Homo sapiens: one gene and its partner. Each later gene encodes a partner of the first gene's protein in a complex. Each region holds a gene or a part of one and is shown in the gene's direction. Other genes may lie near its edges.

The links.
Region 2: the proteins of CSF3R (region 1) and CSF3 are in contact, whole or in part, in a crystal structure (PDB 2D9Q), measured with the Homo sapiens proteins. Residues at the interface, in NP_000751.1 of Homo sapiens: Arg164, Arg190, Lys191, Leu193, Leu194, Leu195, Tyr196, Gln197, Asp220, Met222, His261, Ile262, Asn263, Arg311, Pro313, Leu314; in NP_000750.1 of Homo sapiens: Ser42, Leu45, Lys46, Glu49, Gln50, Arg52, Lys53, Leu141, Asp142, Asp145, Thr148, Thr149, Gln152.

What each region holds. Positions count from the first base shown.
Region 1 is NC_000001.11:36,479,902-36,487,671, reverse strand, and holds the start of CSF3R (granulocyte colony-stimulating factor receptor isoform a precursor), read left to right. Parts: upstream 1-4,758; 5' UTR 4,759-4,861; intron 4,862-6,134; 5' UTR 6,135-6,194; intron 6,195-7,591; exon of another isoform or gene 7,592-7,685; intron 7,686-7,770. UniProt on the Homo sapiens protein: Receptor for granulocyte colony-stimulating factor (CSF3), essential for granulocytic maturation. Plays a crucial role in the proliferation, differentiation and survival of cells along the neutrophilic lineage.
Region 2 is NC_000017.11:40,010,709-40,018,329, forward strand, and holds CSF3 (granulocyte colony-stimulating factor isoform b precursor), read left to right. Parts: upstream 1-4,731; 5' UTR 4,732-4,766; coding exon 4,767-4,806; exon of another isoform or gene 4,807-4,982; coding exon 4,983-5,137; coding exon of another isoform or gene 5,138-5,146; intron 5,147-5,524; coding exon 5,525-5,632; intron 5,633-5,776; coding exon 5,777-5,923; intron 5,924-6,086; coding exon 6,087-6,251; 3' UTR 6,252-7,105; downstream 7,106-7,621. UniProt on the Homo sapiens protein: Granulocyte/macrophage colony-stimulating factors are cytokines that act in hematopoiesis by controlling the production, differentiation, and function of 2 related white cell populations of the blood, the granulocytes and the monocytes-macrophages.

The sequences.
Region 1 (7,770 bases):
CGGTGGCTCACGCCTATAATCCCAACACTTTGGGAGGCCGAGCAGGCGGATTGCCTAAGGACAGGAGTTCGAGACCAGCCTGGCCACCATGGTGAAACCCTTTCTCTACTAAATATACAAAAATTAGCCAGGTATGGTGGCAGGCGCCTGTAATCCCAGCTACTTGGGAGGCTAAGACAGGAGAATCGCATGAACCTGGGAGGAGGAGGTTGCAGTGAGCCAACATCGCGCCACTGCACTCCAGCCTGGGCAAGAAGAATGAAACTCTGTCTCAAAAAAAAAAAAAAGAAAAGAAAAAGAAAAAAAGACTTAGTGGCATTTTCTCTGAGCCTTGAAGAATGAGTAGAATTTCAGCAAGTTGAGGTGGAGGTGAGGGAGGGCACTCGAGGCAGAGAGAACAGCCTGAGCAAAGGCCAGGAGGCGGAAAGTTCAGGGTGGGTTCAGGGAAGAAGGAGTGTCCAGTTTCTTTCTAAGTCAACAGCTCAAGGGCTTTTTGTAAGTGGGCTGTCCAAGCGGAGCAGCCTCCAGTAAACACCTGTTTGCACAATCGAGGTCACACACAGGGGCGCGTTTGCACAATGACCTGTTTGCACAATCTTAGCTGCCTGCTGTATTCCAGCCAACCCCGGCCCTGGCAGCTGAGCACCACAGCCTCAACTTCCGGGCACTCACCCCAGCTTGCCCACCTGGACCCCGCCCCGGCCCCTCTGAAACAAGCTGCTCCTTGACCTACCCAGAAGCCCCACACATCACAGGCAGTAACAGAAACAGAAACAACTCGGGGCTCAGTAGCTAGGCTGCCAAGAATAGGGTTCCCTCACCAGCACTCCCTTACCCAGGGTTTCCAACACACAGAGGCCTTGTCTGATGGAGGAGGGGCGGGAGGCAGGACAGCTGGAAGAGGAAGTATCCACAAAGCCGACACTGGGTGCGGGTAGAGGGGATGACTCCTCGTCTGTCTTGTGCTCTTCAGTGCACCATAGTAAACACTTATTAAGCATTTACTGTGTTCCTGGCTGTGTTCCACAAGCCTTACGGTCACTGATTTCTCTCAAGAATCCTATGAAGCCAATACTGTTAGCCCCATTTTACAGATGACAAAACCGAGGCTTAAAGAGATTAAACATTTGTTTGGAGTCACACAGGCAGCAAGTGGCAAATTGAAGCAGCCTGACTCCTCAGCTCATCATCTTAACCTCAGTACACTCTAAAGAAAGCTCTTCCTTAAATCTAACTTTCATTTCCTTAAATCTAACTTTTATTCTGGCTGCTGCAGCTCCATTTCCTGGTGCAGGTCCTCAACAGAGAATGGAGCACAAAGGAGAATAGTAGAATCTCCCTCCTAAATATTGAATTATGCAGAAGGGAACAAAGGAAAGCAACTTTATTGAACACCTACTATGCGCTGGTTACCATACTAGGCATTGTATTTCTGATAGCTAATTTAATTATCACAAAATCCCTGGGAGGAGTTATTATCACTGTGACAGATTAGGAAACAGAGGCTTGGAAGAGGTAAACACCATCTCCAAGGTTCTGCAGCCCAACAGATATGCATTGAGTATCCTCTGTGTGTCCGGCACTGTACTGAGGCTAGAGAGGCAGAGGTGAGAATACAGTTTCTGCCCTCAAAGAGTTCACAGTATAATGGAGGAGGCAGGCGGCCAACAGCCTACTACAGTATTACAGGATGAATGGGGAGAAGGGCCCCTAATTCAGCTTGACTAAGGTGTGGAAGCCCAGAGGGATGCTGAGCTCAGGCTGGATGCTTGAACTGGGTCAGGAACAGGACTCAGCCAGCAGGAGGTGACAGGCGCTCCGCAGAAGAAAGGCACAGGGTTGTTCCAGAGCCTGGGGCAGGCAGGGAAATACTAGTGAATTTGGCATGACCGGAGCATGACGGGCTGGATCTGAGGAAGCAGGGGCTGGTGAGGCAGGAGAGGGAGGCGAGGGTAACTTGCATGTCCGGTTCAGGAGTTAGGATGTGACGACGGGCCTCTGAAGAAAGACAGGGAGAGGAGAAGGATTGCAGGGCCATTGGCAAGGCTGAGACGGGAGCTCCATAAAGGCAGGAACTAAAACTGTGTCTCACCATTGTGTCCCTGCACCTGCTCCAGGAGCAAGTTCTCTGAATGATGAACAAAAGGCCCATTCTCCTTCATTAAGAACTGACTGGGGCCAGGCGCGGTGACTCATGCCTGTAATCCCAACACTTCGGGAAGCCGAGGCAGGCAGATCACTTGAGGCTAGGAGTTCGAGACCAGCCTGGCCAACATGGCAAAACCCTGTCTCTACTAAAAATACAAAAAAATTAGTCGGGCGTGGTGGTGCGTGCCTGTAGTCCCAGCTACTCAGAAGGCTGAGGCAGGAGAATCACTTGAACCTGGGAGGCAGAGGTTGCAGTGAGCCGAGATCGCGCCACTGCACTCTAGCCTGGGTGGCAGAGCGAGACTCCATCTCAAAAAAAAAGAATGAAAATAAAAATAAAAAATAAATTTAAAATGACCAGAAGGCCAGGTGCGGTGGTTCACGCCTATAAAACCAGCACTTTGGGAGGCTGAGGTGGGCGGATCACTTGAGGTCAGCAGTTCAAGACCAGCCTGGCCAACATGGTGAAACCCAATCTCTACTGAAAATACAAAAATTAGCCAGGCATGATGGCAGGCATTTGTAATTCCAGCTACTTGGGAGGCTGAGGCAGGAGAATCACTTGAACCTGGGAGTCAGAGGTTGCAGTGATCCAAAATCGCGCCACTGCATTCCAGCCTGGGTGACAAAGTGAGACTCTGTCTCAAAAAAAAAAAAAGAAAGAAAGAAAAAAAAGAACTAAAAGAACTGACTGGACATGGGAATGTGGAGAAAGGGTTGTAAGGAATGACTCCTGAGTCCCTGAGCTGCATGACTAGGGAGAGGAGGGGATGGTGGTTAATTCACCATGACAAGGTACGTGGGGATTAGAGACAGATTTGGTGAAGTGGGGGAAGATTCATCCAGTTGATCATTCATTCAACAAACACGCATGGAGGCCTTACTGTGTGGCAAGCAGTGTTATAGACACTGGAGATAAAGTTTTGAACAAAACAGATAAAAACTGTTGCTCTTATGGAACTTTCAGTCTAGTGGGGATTGAGACAGCCAATATCAGATGGTGAAAAGGGATTTGGGGGAGAGAGAGATAGGGAGTGGGAGGGAAGGGGCTTGCAAATTTTGAAAAGGGTGCTCAGAGAAGGCCTCAATGAGAAAGTGACATTTGAGCAAAGACCTGAAGAAGGGGAGGGACCAGCCCATGTAGCTATTTGCGGGGGAAAGAGTCCAGGCAAATGAAACAGCAAGTGCAAAGGCCCTGAGGCAAGAGACAGCATAACAAGTTCAAGAAGCAAAGAACACAGAGTAGCTGGAGCAAGGCAGCAAGGGGGAGAATAACAGGAGAGGGATCCAGGAGGTAACAGGGATACCAGGTTTTGTAGGGCCTTGTAGACCATCCAAAGGGCTTTGACTTTGACTCTGAATGAGACAGGAGCCATTGGAAAGGTTGGGACGAGGATGGGCTGATCAGACTTCTGTTTGATTGATATCGCACTGGCTGCTGAAGGAATTACAGACAGGTGCGGGAACAAGGATGAAATAGAAGCAGGAGAGCAGGCAGGGGGCTATTGCGATTATCTAGGCAATAGATGAGGGTAGCTTGGAGCTGGCTAGTATTGGTTTCAGTTATATTTATATTTTCCAAATATTATCATAAAAATATTCAAACGTAGAGCCAAGTTGAACTTTACAGTGAATACCCAGGATTCTGGTTATATTTGGAAAGAAGAGAGTCCATGGGACTCACTGAGCGAGCAGAGCCTGTGGGATATCTTGGGAGGGTTGCAGCAGGCAGTCAGGTCATTTGACTTGGAACTAGAACTACAGCCCTGGTCTGCAGCATCACACCAGACCCAGATGCCTCAAAAGGATTATATGTTAAGGACAGTCTGCTGGTCTGTTGGCACCTAACCTTTTTTGGGTTATGAATCCAATAAACTATGAGCAGTTTGAACCTTTCTCAGAAAATGCAAAGAAAATTATTTGTAGTTTTAGAAGAATCATGAATACAGACAATAAAAGACATAAAATGTAGTCTATTTCACTCAATTACAAAATATTCAGTGTTGCAGAACCATTGTGGGTAAACATTCCTAATTTTTAGTGAACATATAAAGACCCCGTGCCTCACCAAGACGTCCTCCTGTCTTGCCCCCAGAATTCCTGTTTCTCCATCTGCCTGGTCTATGGGCAATGCACAGAATACGTAATGAAGAGGGGAGCAGTGAGTATTGGGTTACACAATTCCCTGGAACCTGGAACACACCCTTCTGAGTACTGTGAAGATGTGGTCCCCAAGGCTAGAGCTGAAAAGAGGCTTAGGGCCGGGTGAGCCTTCCAGCCAGGGCCTGCCTCCAAGTGATGCTCCCCCAGGGCAGGGGGCATAAGGATGGCACCCAGCCAGGTGGGAGCCTGGGCCCTGCCCAGCCTCAAAGCTTTGAGCTCAGGAAATCCGGAGGCAGGGGAGGGGGACATCGTTGCCACATTCCCCAGCCCTTTAAGACCCCCAAGGCAGGAAGGCTGCCCGGGCCTCACCAGCTTCCCTCACAGGCTCCTTCCTGGGAGGAAGGGGCTGCCTGTGCCCTCGAAGGCGCAAGGGAGGGCAGGAGGGAGGCTCGGAAGGTGTTGCAATCCCCAGCCCCCGGGCCTGTCAGAGGCTGAGCCATTAACGACAGAGCTCGGGGAGAGAAGCTGGACTGCAGCTGGTTTCAGGAACTTCTCTTGACGAGAAGAGAGACCAAGGAGGCCAAGCAGGGGCTGGGCCAGAGGTGCCAACGTGAGTAGGGGATCCCTAGAGAGGGGCTGAGCCTTGGGCTTGATGGAGAGCTGGAATCCTGGGGCCACTCCCCACAGCTCTGCCAAGTGTTCATGTCCGGGGTCCTAGGCCTGGGGCCCGGGATTCGTCCTTTGGAACCCCAGCCCTGGACACTGAGTCTCTTTTCACAGGATGCCCCTACTTTTGGGGGTATTGCACCAGGGAAGTCACTCACAGCCAAGTATCTCCTTGGGGACACTGAGCTGGGCTGGGGACAGGCATAATCATTCTCCCCTCCCCATGCCTCTGTCTCTCAGGACGTGTGTGTCTGTGAGTTCCAGCCGCGCAACCCCTCCCCGTCTGGGTCTCTATTTCACTCTCTGTTTCCATCTTTCCTCCTCAGCTTCTCTCTGGCTTGCTATCTCTCTGAGTTTCTCTGTCTCGCATATTTCCTGCTATCTCTTGAATCTTAAACTCTCGGTAACAGACGCTTCCCGGGCTCCAGGCCTCCGAGTGCCCCCCCCCCGCCCACTCTCTGGGTCGGCGTACATTGGGCCCTTTTTCTCTGTCTCTCGATATCTCTCTGGCCTCAATCGTCCTCTTGGCGAGTCTCTCTGTCGTTTCAGTCTGTGTGGATTTCAGTCACCGCCTCACTCTGTCACTCTTCCTGTTGCTCTCTCTTTTTCTTTATCTGCAGCATATCTGGAAATGCCTCTCCCCTCTGTTTATTCCCAGCCCCCTCCTCCCTCCCCACCCTTCCCACAGAAAGAATCTCGAGGTGAGAGTAGAAACAGCAAGGGAGCGAGGGGTGTGAAGTGGGGAAGAGAGTGTGAGGGGAGAGGGCTGAGCGTGATGAGGGAGAAACAGAAAGAGGGAATGTGAAGGCAGCCAGCCCAGGAGACATCGAGCTGTGCTGGGCCACAGGAGTGAGCACCTGCAGAGCCCAGCAGAGATGGCCGCAGTGACAGGAGGGCCAGGGGGCCCAGGAGTTAGGAGGAGAGGATCCAGAAAGGGGGCTTTGGAACTGCGCAGTGTGGCACAGACAAAAGCAAGGTGGCAGTCCTGGGAGGTGTGACCACACAGGCTGTGAGGGAGGCAGGGGTGAGGGGAAAACTGAACTGTGCTGGATTCTGTGAGCTGCTGACCTGCTATTTATGGCTCGTGAAAATAACCTATGGTTGCTGAGTGCCAACTCCATGCAAGGCACAGGGCTAAATGCCTTTACCAAAATAATCTCATTTCATCCTCACAACAACGCTGAGGAGTGAGTGCTAATGTTATTTCTTTCCCACAGATGGGGAAACTGAGGCTCGGCTCGGAAAGGTGAAGTAACTTGTCCAAGATCACAAAGCTGGTAAGTGGCGGAGCTGGAGATCAAGTCAGGTGACCTGAATCTGAGCTGGGCTCCAAACCTCTCTGCATATCGGCCCCCCAGAGAGTGAGACCATGCTCCAACAGGTCCTAGGCCCACTTAACCAGGCTGGGGGACGTCCAGGGCTGCAGTGGAGGACCAGAGACTGAGGCCAAGCAGGCCAACACCCAGCACCCAGGGGAAGGATGCCGGGGCCTCTTGGGGTTAGGTTGTCTACTCTGGACAGGAGCCAGTGGAGGCGGATAGGGTGGTACTGCACGGGGCATAGGCTGGGCCTGAAGCTGACCCTGGCTAGGGCAACAGGGCTGGGATAGGATCAAAAGCACATGGAGATGAAAACCAGTGTCCCAAAATCTGGGCCTTGGAGGCTAAATCTTCCCCAACCAGTGTTGCGGGGGGATAATCAAACTGGTATGCTATAGTAAGAAGGTTACCAACCACCGATGGGTAGACAGATGCTCGGGATACTTGTACAGGTTTCTCACTGCACAAAACTGAGGAGTAACTGGAGCCGAAATCCAGGCTGTTCCCTAGTTGCCAGGTCCTAGTGTGGTGCTGCATCCATCCAGAGGAAGGGGTGCTTTCTTTCTGATTTGCACAAAGGAGACTTACGGGCTAGCAGTCACTGGGTATTCCGATACTGCAATATATACATGGATAGACTGGGGGTTTGGGTAAGACCCCTGTGAGCAGTAACAACCTTGGGTATCTGGGCAGTTCTTATCCACACCTCTGTCTGGGAGGAAGAGAAAAGGATTCTCCTACCTTTCTCCCTGCTGAGCACGAGGGATCTGCTGGGACACCACCTGCGTGTATGTGTCCAGATATGTACGTGCAAGCTGACCAGCGATTCCCACTGATCTGCCACCAAGAGCACCAACTCGTGCTGGAGGATCAGGTGTTGGCTCCAAGACCCCAATGGGAGCAGGGTGAAGATGAGGCTGGACACCCACCCAAGTGGTAGAAACCTCTGCATACTTCCTAAGACTGGAGCCAAGGCACCCTCCATCCAGGTGCTATGGCCGTGACCTCATGATGCCTGACCCCAGAAGGCCACCAGAGGTCTGTGCCCAAAATTGGGGGCACACTGGACCCTTCGGGTGCCCCACTTGATATTCTCTCAGCCCACATGGCTGAGGCAGCCAGCTTCCTGCAGGCATAACCTGACAGCCCCTTGCCTCAGCTGCTCCATAGAGTTCTCCCTTTCTTCCAGGGAGTGTCCCTGACAACACTGGCATGGCTTCCCCAGGAGAACCTGCCTAGTACTCATGCATGCCCAACCTGGATGTGCCAGGGAATGAACACCCCAAGAGGCATCCCTTGACCAATGGGGGGCAGGAGTCAGTGGGTAAATCTTTCCATCTTCCCTCCCATCCAAGGGATAAATTGACCCTCCAGTGGACAGCTCTGAGAAGTGTTCTACATGGCTCTTTGGAAGGTTCCAGCAGGATAGAGCCCCAGTTGTCCATAGAGGTGACCAACATGATGATGTAACTTTGTGCTGGCTTTCTCTCCTTCCCTGTTTCATTCTCCCCAGTCCCTTATCTGCTGCTAGGAT
Region 2 (7,621 bases), on another chromosome or scaffold:
CCCAGCACTTTGGGAGGCCAAGGCGGGTGGATGGCTTGAGCCTGAGAGGTGACAGCATGCCGGCAGTCCTCACAGCCCTCGTTCGCTCTCGGCGCCTCCTCTGCCTGGGCTCCCACTTCGGTGGCACTTGAGGAGCCCTTCAGCCCACCGCTGCACTGTGGGAGCCCCTTTCTGGGCTGGCCAAGGCCAGAGCCGGCTCCCTCAGCTTGCAGGGAGGTGTGGAGGGAGAGGCTCAAGCAGGAACCGGGGCTGCGCGCGGCGCTTGCGGGCCAGCTGGAGTTCCGGGTGGGCGTGGGCTTGGCGGGCCCCGCACTCGGAGCAGCGGGCCAGCCCTGCCAGGCCCCGGGCAATGAGAGGCTTAGCACCCGGGCCAGCGGCTGCGGAGGGTGTACTGGGTGCCCCAGCAGTGCCAGCCCGCCGGCGCTGTGCTCGCTCGATTTCTCACTGGGCCTTAGCAGCCTTCCCGCGGGGCAGGGCTCGGGACCTGCAGCCCGCCATGCCTGAGCCTCCCCTCCATGGGCTCCTGTGCGGCCCGAGCCTCCCCGACGAGCACCACCCCCTGCTCCACAGCGCCCAGTCCCATCGACCACGCAAGGGCTGAGAAGTGCGGGCGCACGGCACCGGGACTGGCAGGCAGCTACCCCTGCAGCCCTGGTGCGGAATCCACTGGGTGAAGCCAGCTGGGCTCCTGAGTCTGGTGGAGACTTGGAGAACCTTTATGTCTAGCTCAGGGATCGTAAATACACCAATCAGCACCCTGTGTCTAGCTCAGGTTCTGTGAATGCACCAATCCACACTCTGTATCTAGCTACTCTGATGGGGCCTTGGAGAACCTTTATGTCTAGCTCAGGGATTGTAAATACACCAATCGGCACTCTGTATCTAGCTCAAGGTTTGTAAACACACCAATCAGCACCCTGTGTCTAGCTCAGGGTATGTGAATGCACCAATCGACAGTCTGTATCTGGCTACTTTCATGGGCATCCGTGTGAAGAGACCACCAAACAGGCTTTGTGTGAGCAATAAAGCTTTTATCACCTGGGTGCAGGTGGGCTGAGTCCGAAAAGAGAGTCAGCGAAGGGAGATAAGGGTGGGGCCGTTTTATAGGATTTGGGTAGGTAAAGGAAAATTACAGTCAAAGGGGGTTTGTTCTCTGGCGGGCAGGAGTGGGGGGTCGCAAGGTGCTCAGTGGGGGTGCTTTTTGAGCCAGGATGAGCCAGGAAAAGGACTTTCACAAGGTAATGTCATCAATTAAGGCAAGGACCCGCCATTTACACCTCTTTTGTGGTGGAATGTCATCAGTTAAGTTGGGGCAGGGCATATTCACTTCTTTTGTGATTCTTCAGTTACTTCAGGCCATCTGGGCGTATATGTGCAAGTTACAGGGGATGCGATGGCTTGGCTTGGGCTCAGAGGCTTGACAGCTACTCTGGTGGGGCCTTGGAGAATGTTTGTGTCGACACTCTGTATCTAGTTAATCTAGTGGGGACGTGGAGAACCTTTGTGTCTAGCTCAGGGATTGTAAACGCACCAATCAGCGCCCTGTCAAAACAGACCACTCGGCTCTACCAATCAGCAGGATGTGGGTGGGGCCAGATAAGAGAATAAAAGCAGGCTGCCCGAGCCAGCAGTGGCAACGGGCACAGGTCCCCATCCACAATATGGCAGCTTTGTTCTTTTGCTGTTTGCGATAAATCTTGCTACTGCTCGCTTTTTGGGTCCACACTGCTTTTATGAGCTGTAACACTCACCACGAAGGTCTGCAGCTTCACTCCTGAAGCCACTAAGACCACGAGCCCACCGGGAGGAATGAACAACTCCGGCCGCGCTGCCTTAAGAGCTATAACACTCACCGCGAAGGTCTGCAGCTTCACTCCTCAGCCAGCGAGACCACGAACCCACCAGAAGGAAGAAACTGCGAACACATCTGAACATCAGAAGGAACAAACTCCAGATGCACCACCTTAAGAGCTGTAACACTCACTGCGAGGGTCCGCGGCTTCCTTCTTGAAGTCAGTGAGACCAAGCACTCACCAGTTTCGGACACAAGCCCAGGAGTTTGAGATCAGCCTGGGCAACATGATGAAATGCCCTCTCTGCAAAAAAAAAAAAATTACAAAAATTGGCGGAGCATGGTGGTCCGTGCCTGTGGTCCCAGCTACGCGGGAGGCTAAAGTGGGAGGATCGCTTGAGCCTGGGAGGTGAAGACTGCAGTGAGCTGTGATTGTACCACAGCCCTCTAGGCTGGGGGACAGACTGAGACCCTGTTTCCCCTCCGCAAAAAAATTGACAAAAGTGTAATAAGAGGTGCCTGATATGGCTAGGCGCAGTGGCTCATGCCTGTAATCCCAGCACTTTGGGAAGCCGAGGCGGGCGGGTCACCTAAGGTCAGGAGTGTGAGACCAGCCTGGCCAACATGGAGAAAGCCCATCTCTTCTAAAAATACAAAATTAGCCGGCTGTGGGGGCAGTGGTGGAGCATGCCTGTAATCCCAGCTACTCAGGAGGCTGAGGCAGGAGAATCACTTGAACCCAGGAGGCGGCGGTTGCAGTGAGCCGAGATCGTGCCATTGCACTCCACCCACTCCAGCCTGGGCAACAAGAGCCAAACTCTGTCTTAAAAAAAAAAAAAAAAAGTGCCTGACATATAAGAGGTGTGCAATGCAATAGTTGCCAGGCAACATGTTTAAGAATGTGGAGCTCCTGCCTTCCATGGTCCTGTTAAAAACCCACCCTCAAGGCCAGGTGCAGTGGCTCATGCCTATAATCCCAGCACTTTGGGAGGCCGAGGCGGGTGGATCACCTGAGGTCAGGAGTTCGAGACCAGCCTGACCACCAACATGGTGAAATCCCACCTCTACTAAAAATACAAAATTAGATGAGCATGGTGGTGCATGCCTGTAATCCCACCTACTTGGGAGGCTGAGGCAGGAAAATCACTAGAACCAGGGAGGCGGAGGTTGTAGTGAGCCGAGATCGTGCCATTGCACTCCAGCCTGAGCAATGAGCGAAACTCCATCTCAAAAAAACAACAACAAAAACCCACCCTCTACTCCCAGGGAGCTGGGTACAGAGCTGGGCCACATCAGTGCAAGGTGCTGAGCCACAGAGCTAAGGCGGAGCTGCAGGACCGCGGACCAGATAACAGTGTGTGAGATCAGTGTGTGAGATCAGACGTCCCTGCCATTGGTGACCACCAGGGGGCCCCCAAGCACCAGAGATGGCCCCATCCAGTCACCACATCCACTTCTCATCCAGAGATGTCTGTTTCTTGGCACGCTGGGGTAAATTAGGACAGAAGGTGACAGTCTTGGGTGTGGTCAGTCAGACTGCCCCAGGCAGGCCTTGTGGCCTGTAGAAAACGTTCAGGCCTAGGCCGGGCACGGTGGCTCACGCCTGTAATCCCAGCACTTTGGGAGGCCGAGGCGGGTGGATCACGAGGTCAGGAGATCGTGACCATCCTGGCTAACACGGTGAAACCCCGTCTCTACTAAAAATACAAAAAATTGGCCGGGCATGGTGGCGGGCACCTGTAGTTCCAGCTACTCGGGAGGCTGAGGCAGGAGAATGGCGTGAACCCGAGAGGCAGAGTTTGCAGTGAGCCGAGATCGCGCCACTGCACTCCAGCCTGGGCGACAGAGCAAGACTCCATCTGGAAAAGAAAAAGAAAACGTTCAGGTCTGAGCCAGAGGCCCAGGCTGTAATTCTGTCACTTACCATGACCTTGGGCAAGGCACTTCCTTCCCTGGCCCAGTTCACGGGGTTGGAATCGACTCCAAGGTCCCTTCCAGCATTAACGCTGCATGGTTCTAAGATGAGAAGATGGGGCAGTTTCCCCTCTCTCACCCCAGCCCGTGTCCACTTCAAGGTGAATGACCAGGGAAGTCACGTGTCCCAATCCCGCAGTTCCAAAGCCCTTGGGGACCCTACTGTCAGGGTCGTGCACGAGGAGGTGAAGGTCAGGTGAGCCAATCGCCTCGAAGGGTCTTGCCTCATTCGGGACAGACATCCGGTTTCCTCTGGCTCTACCGGGATTCTAGGGGCTTTAGCCGAATGAGTCATGGGGGGCGGGGGGGTTTCTGGGGGAGTTCCCAGCTAATCAACTTGGGACAGGACAGCCTGGAACTTTCGATGGTGCCTATCCAAGTGTGGGGTGGGCACAGCAGCCAAGACCCAATGTCCTTATCTCAGGTAGGGGCTCAGGAGGTCTCCCAGACAGGCAGCCTCCGGAGAGTTTGGGGGTAGGAATGGGAGCAACCAGCTTCTTTTTTTCTCTCTTAGAATTTGGGGGCTTGGGGGACAGGCTTGAGAATCCCAAAGGAGAGGGGCAAAGGACACTGCCCCCGCAAGTCTGCCAGAGCAGAGAGGGAGACCCCGACTCAGCTGCCACTTCCCCACAGGCTGCTGCCGCTTCCAGGCGTCTATCAGCGGCTCAGCCTTTGTTCAGCTGTTCTGTTCAAACACTCTGGGGCCATTCAGGCCTGGGTGGGGCAGCGGGAGGAAGGGAGTTTGAGGGGGGCAAGGCGACGTCAAAGGAGGATCAGAGATTCCACAATTTCACAAAACTTTCGCAAACAGCTTTTTGTTCCAACCCCCCTGCATTGTCTTGGACACCAAATTTGCATAAATCCTGGGAAGTTATTACTAAGCCTTAGTCGTGGCCCCAGGTAATTTCCTCCCAGGCCTCCATGGGGTTATGTATAAAGGCCCCCCTAGAGCTGGGCCCCAAAACAGCCCGGAGCCTGCAGCCCAGCCCCACCCAGACCCATGGCTGGACCTGCCACCCAGAGCCCCATGAAGCTGATGGGTGAGTGTCTTGGCCCAGGATGGGAGAGCCGCCTGCCCTGGCATGGGAGGGAGGCTGGTGTGACAGAGGGGCTGGGGATCCCCGTTCTGGGAATGGGGATTAAAGGCACCCAGTGTCCCCGAGAGGGCCTCAGGTGGTAGGGAACAGCATGTCTCCTGAGCCCGCTCTGTCCCCAGCCCTGCAGCTGCTGCTGTGGCACAGTGCACTCTGGACAGTGCAGGAAGCCACCCCCCTGGGCCCTGCCAGCTCCCTGCCCCAGAGCTTCCTGCTCAAGTGCTTAGAGCAAGTGAGGAAGATCCAGGGCGATGGCGCAGCGCTCCAGGAGAAGCTGGTGAGTGAGGTGGGTGAGAGGGCTGTGGAGGGAAGCCCGGTGGGGAGAGCTAAGGGGGATGGAACTGCAGGGCCAACATCCTCTGGAAGGGACGTGGGAGAATATTAGGAGCAGTGGAGCTGGGGAAGGCTGGGAAGGGACTTGGGGAGGAGGACCTTGGTGGGGACAGTGCTCGGGAGGGCTGGCTGGGATGGGAGTGGAGGCATTACATTCAGGAGAAAGGGCAAGGGCCCCTGTGAGATCAGAGAGTGGGGGTGCAGGGCAGAGAGGAACTGAACAGCCTGGCAGGACATGGAGGGAGGGGAAAGACCAGAGAGTCGGGGAGGACCCGGGAAGGAGCGGCGACCCGGCCATGGCGAGTCTCACTCAGCATCCTTCCATCCCCAGTGTGCCACCTACAAGCTGTGCCACCCCGAGGAGCTGGTGCTGCTCGGACACTCTCTGGGCATCCCCTGGGCTCCCCTGAGCAGCTGCCCCAGCCAGGCCCTGCAGCTGGTGAGTGTCAGGAAAGGATAAGGCTAATGAGGAGGGGGAAGGAGAGGAGGAACACCCATGGGCTCCCCCATGTCTCCAGGTTCCAAGCTGGGGGCCTGACGTATCTCAGGCAGCACCCCCTAACTCTTCCGCTCTGTCTCACAGGCAGGCTGCTTGAGCCAACTCCATAGCGGCCTTTTCCTCTACCAGGGGCTCCTGCAGGCCCTGGAAGGGATCTCCCCCGAGTTGGGTCCCACCTTGGACACACTGCAGCTGGACGTCGCCGACTTTGCCACCACCATCTGGCAGCAGGTGAGCCTTGTTGGGCAGGGTGGCCAAGGTCGTGCTGGCATTCTGGGCACCACAGCCAGGCCTGTGTATGGGCCCTGTCCATGCTGTCACCCCCAGCATTTCCTCATTTGTAATAACGCCCACTCAGAAGGGCCCAACCACTGATCACAGCTTTCCCCCACAGATGGAAGAACTGGGAATGGCCCCTGCCCTGCAGCCCACCCAGGGTGCCATGCCGGCCTTCGCCTCTGCTTTCCAGCGCCGGGCAGGAGGGGTCCTGGTTGCCTCCCATCTGCAGAGCTTCCTGGAGGTGTCGTACCGCGTTCTACGCCACCTTGCCCAGCCCTGAGCCAAGCCCTCCCCATCCCATGTATTTATCTCTATTTAATATTTATGTCTATTTAAGCCTCATATTTAAAGACAGGGAAGAGCAGAACGGAGCCCCAGGCCTCTGTGTCCTTCCCTGCATTTCTGAGTTTCATTCTCCTGCCTGTAGCAGTGAGAAAAAGCTCCTGTCCTCCCATCCCCTGGACTGGGAGGTAGATAGGTAAATACCAAGTATTTATTACTATGACTGCTCCCCAGCCCTGGCTCTGCAATGGGCACTGGGATGAGCCGCTGTGAGCCCCTGGTCCTGAGGGTCCCCACCTGGGACCCTTGAGAGTATCAGGTCTCCCACGTGGGAGACAAGAAATCCCTGTTTAATATTTAAACAGCAGTGTTCCCCATCTGGGTCCTTGCACCCCTCACTCTGGCCTCAGCCGACTGCACAGCGGCCCCTGCATCCCCTTGGCTGTGAGGCCCCTGGACAAGCAGAGGTGGCCAGAGCTGGGAGGCATGGCCCTGGGGTCCCACGAATTTGCTGGGGAATCTCGTTTTTCTTCTTAAGACTTTTGGGACATGGTTTGACTCCCGAACATCACCGACGCGTCTCCTGTTTTTCTGGGTGGCCTCGGGACACCTGCCCTGCCCCCACGAGGGTCAGGACTGTGACTCTTTTTAGGGCCAGGCAGGTGCCTGGACATTTGCCTTGCTGGACGGGGACTGGGGATGTGGGAGGGAGCAGACAGGAGGAATCATGTCAGGCCTGTGTGTGAAAGGAAGCTCCACTGTCACCCTCCACCTCTTCACCCCCCACTCACCAGTGTCCCCTCCACTGTCACATTGTAACTGAACTTCAGGATAATAAAGTGTTTGCCTCCAGTCACGTCCTTCCTCCTTCTTGAGTCCAGCTGGTGCCTGGCCAGGGGCTGGGGAGGTGGCTGAAGGGTGGGAGAGGCCAGAGGGAGGTCGGGGAGGAGGTCTGGGGAGGAGGTCCAGGGAGGAGGAGGAAAGTTCTCAAGTTCGTCTGACATTCATTCCGTTAGCACATATTTATCTGAGCACCTACTCTGTGCAGACGCTGGGCTAAGTGCTGGGGACACAGCAGGGAACAAGGCAGACATGGAATCTGCACTCGAGCAGCCAAAGCCTGGCAGGGAAGACAGAGGCACAGGGACCATGGGAACCCGGAAAGGAGAGGGCATGGGGTCTGGGTGGGCTTAACAGGCCAGACACAGCCAGACAAGATGAAGCCAGGGAGTGCTGAGCATCTGCACCAGGCTTGTCATTTACCATCTTCCATAAACTTGAGCCCATCCATCAAGTTGCCCACAAAGTGGAAGCCAAGTTCAAGGTGACCACTGGGGTCAGAGCTTCTCTCCTCAGACTCGGTCTCTG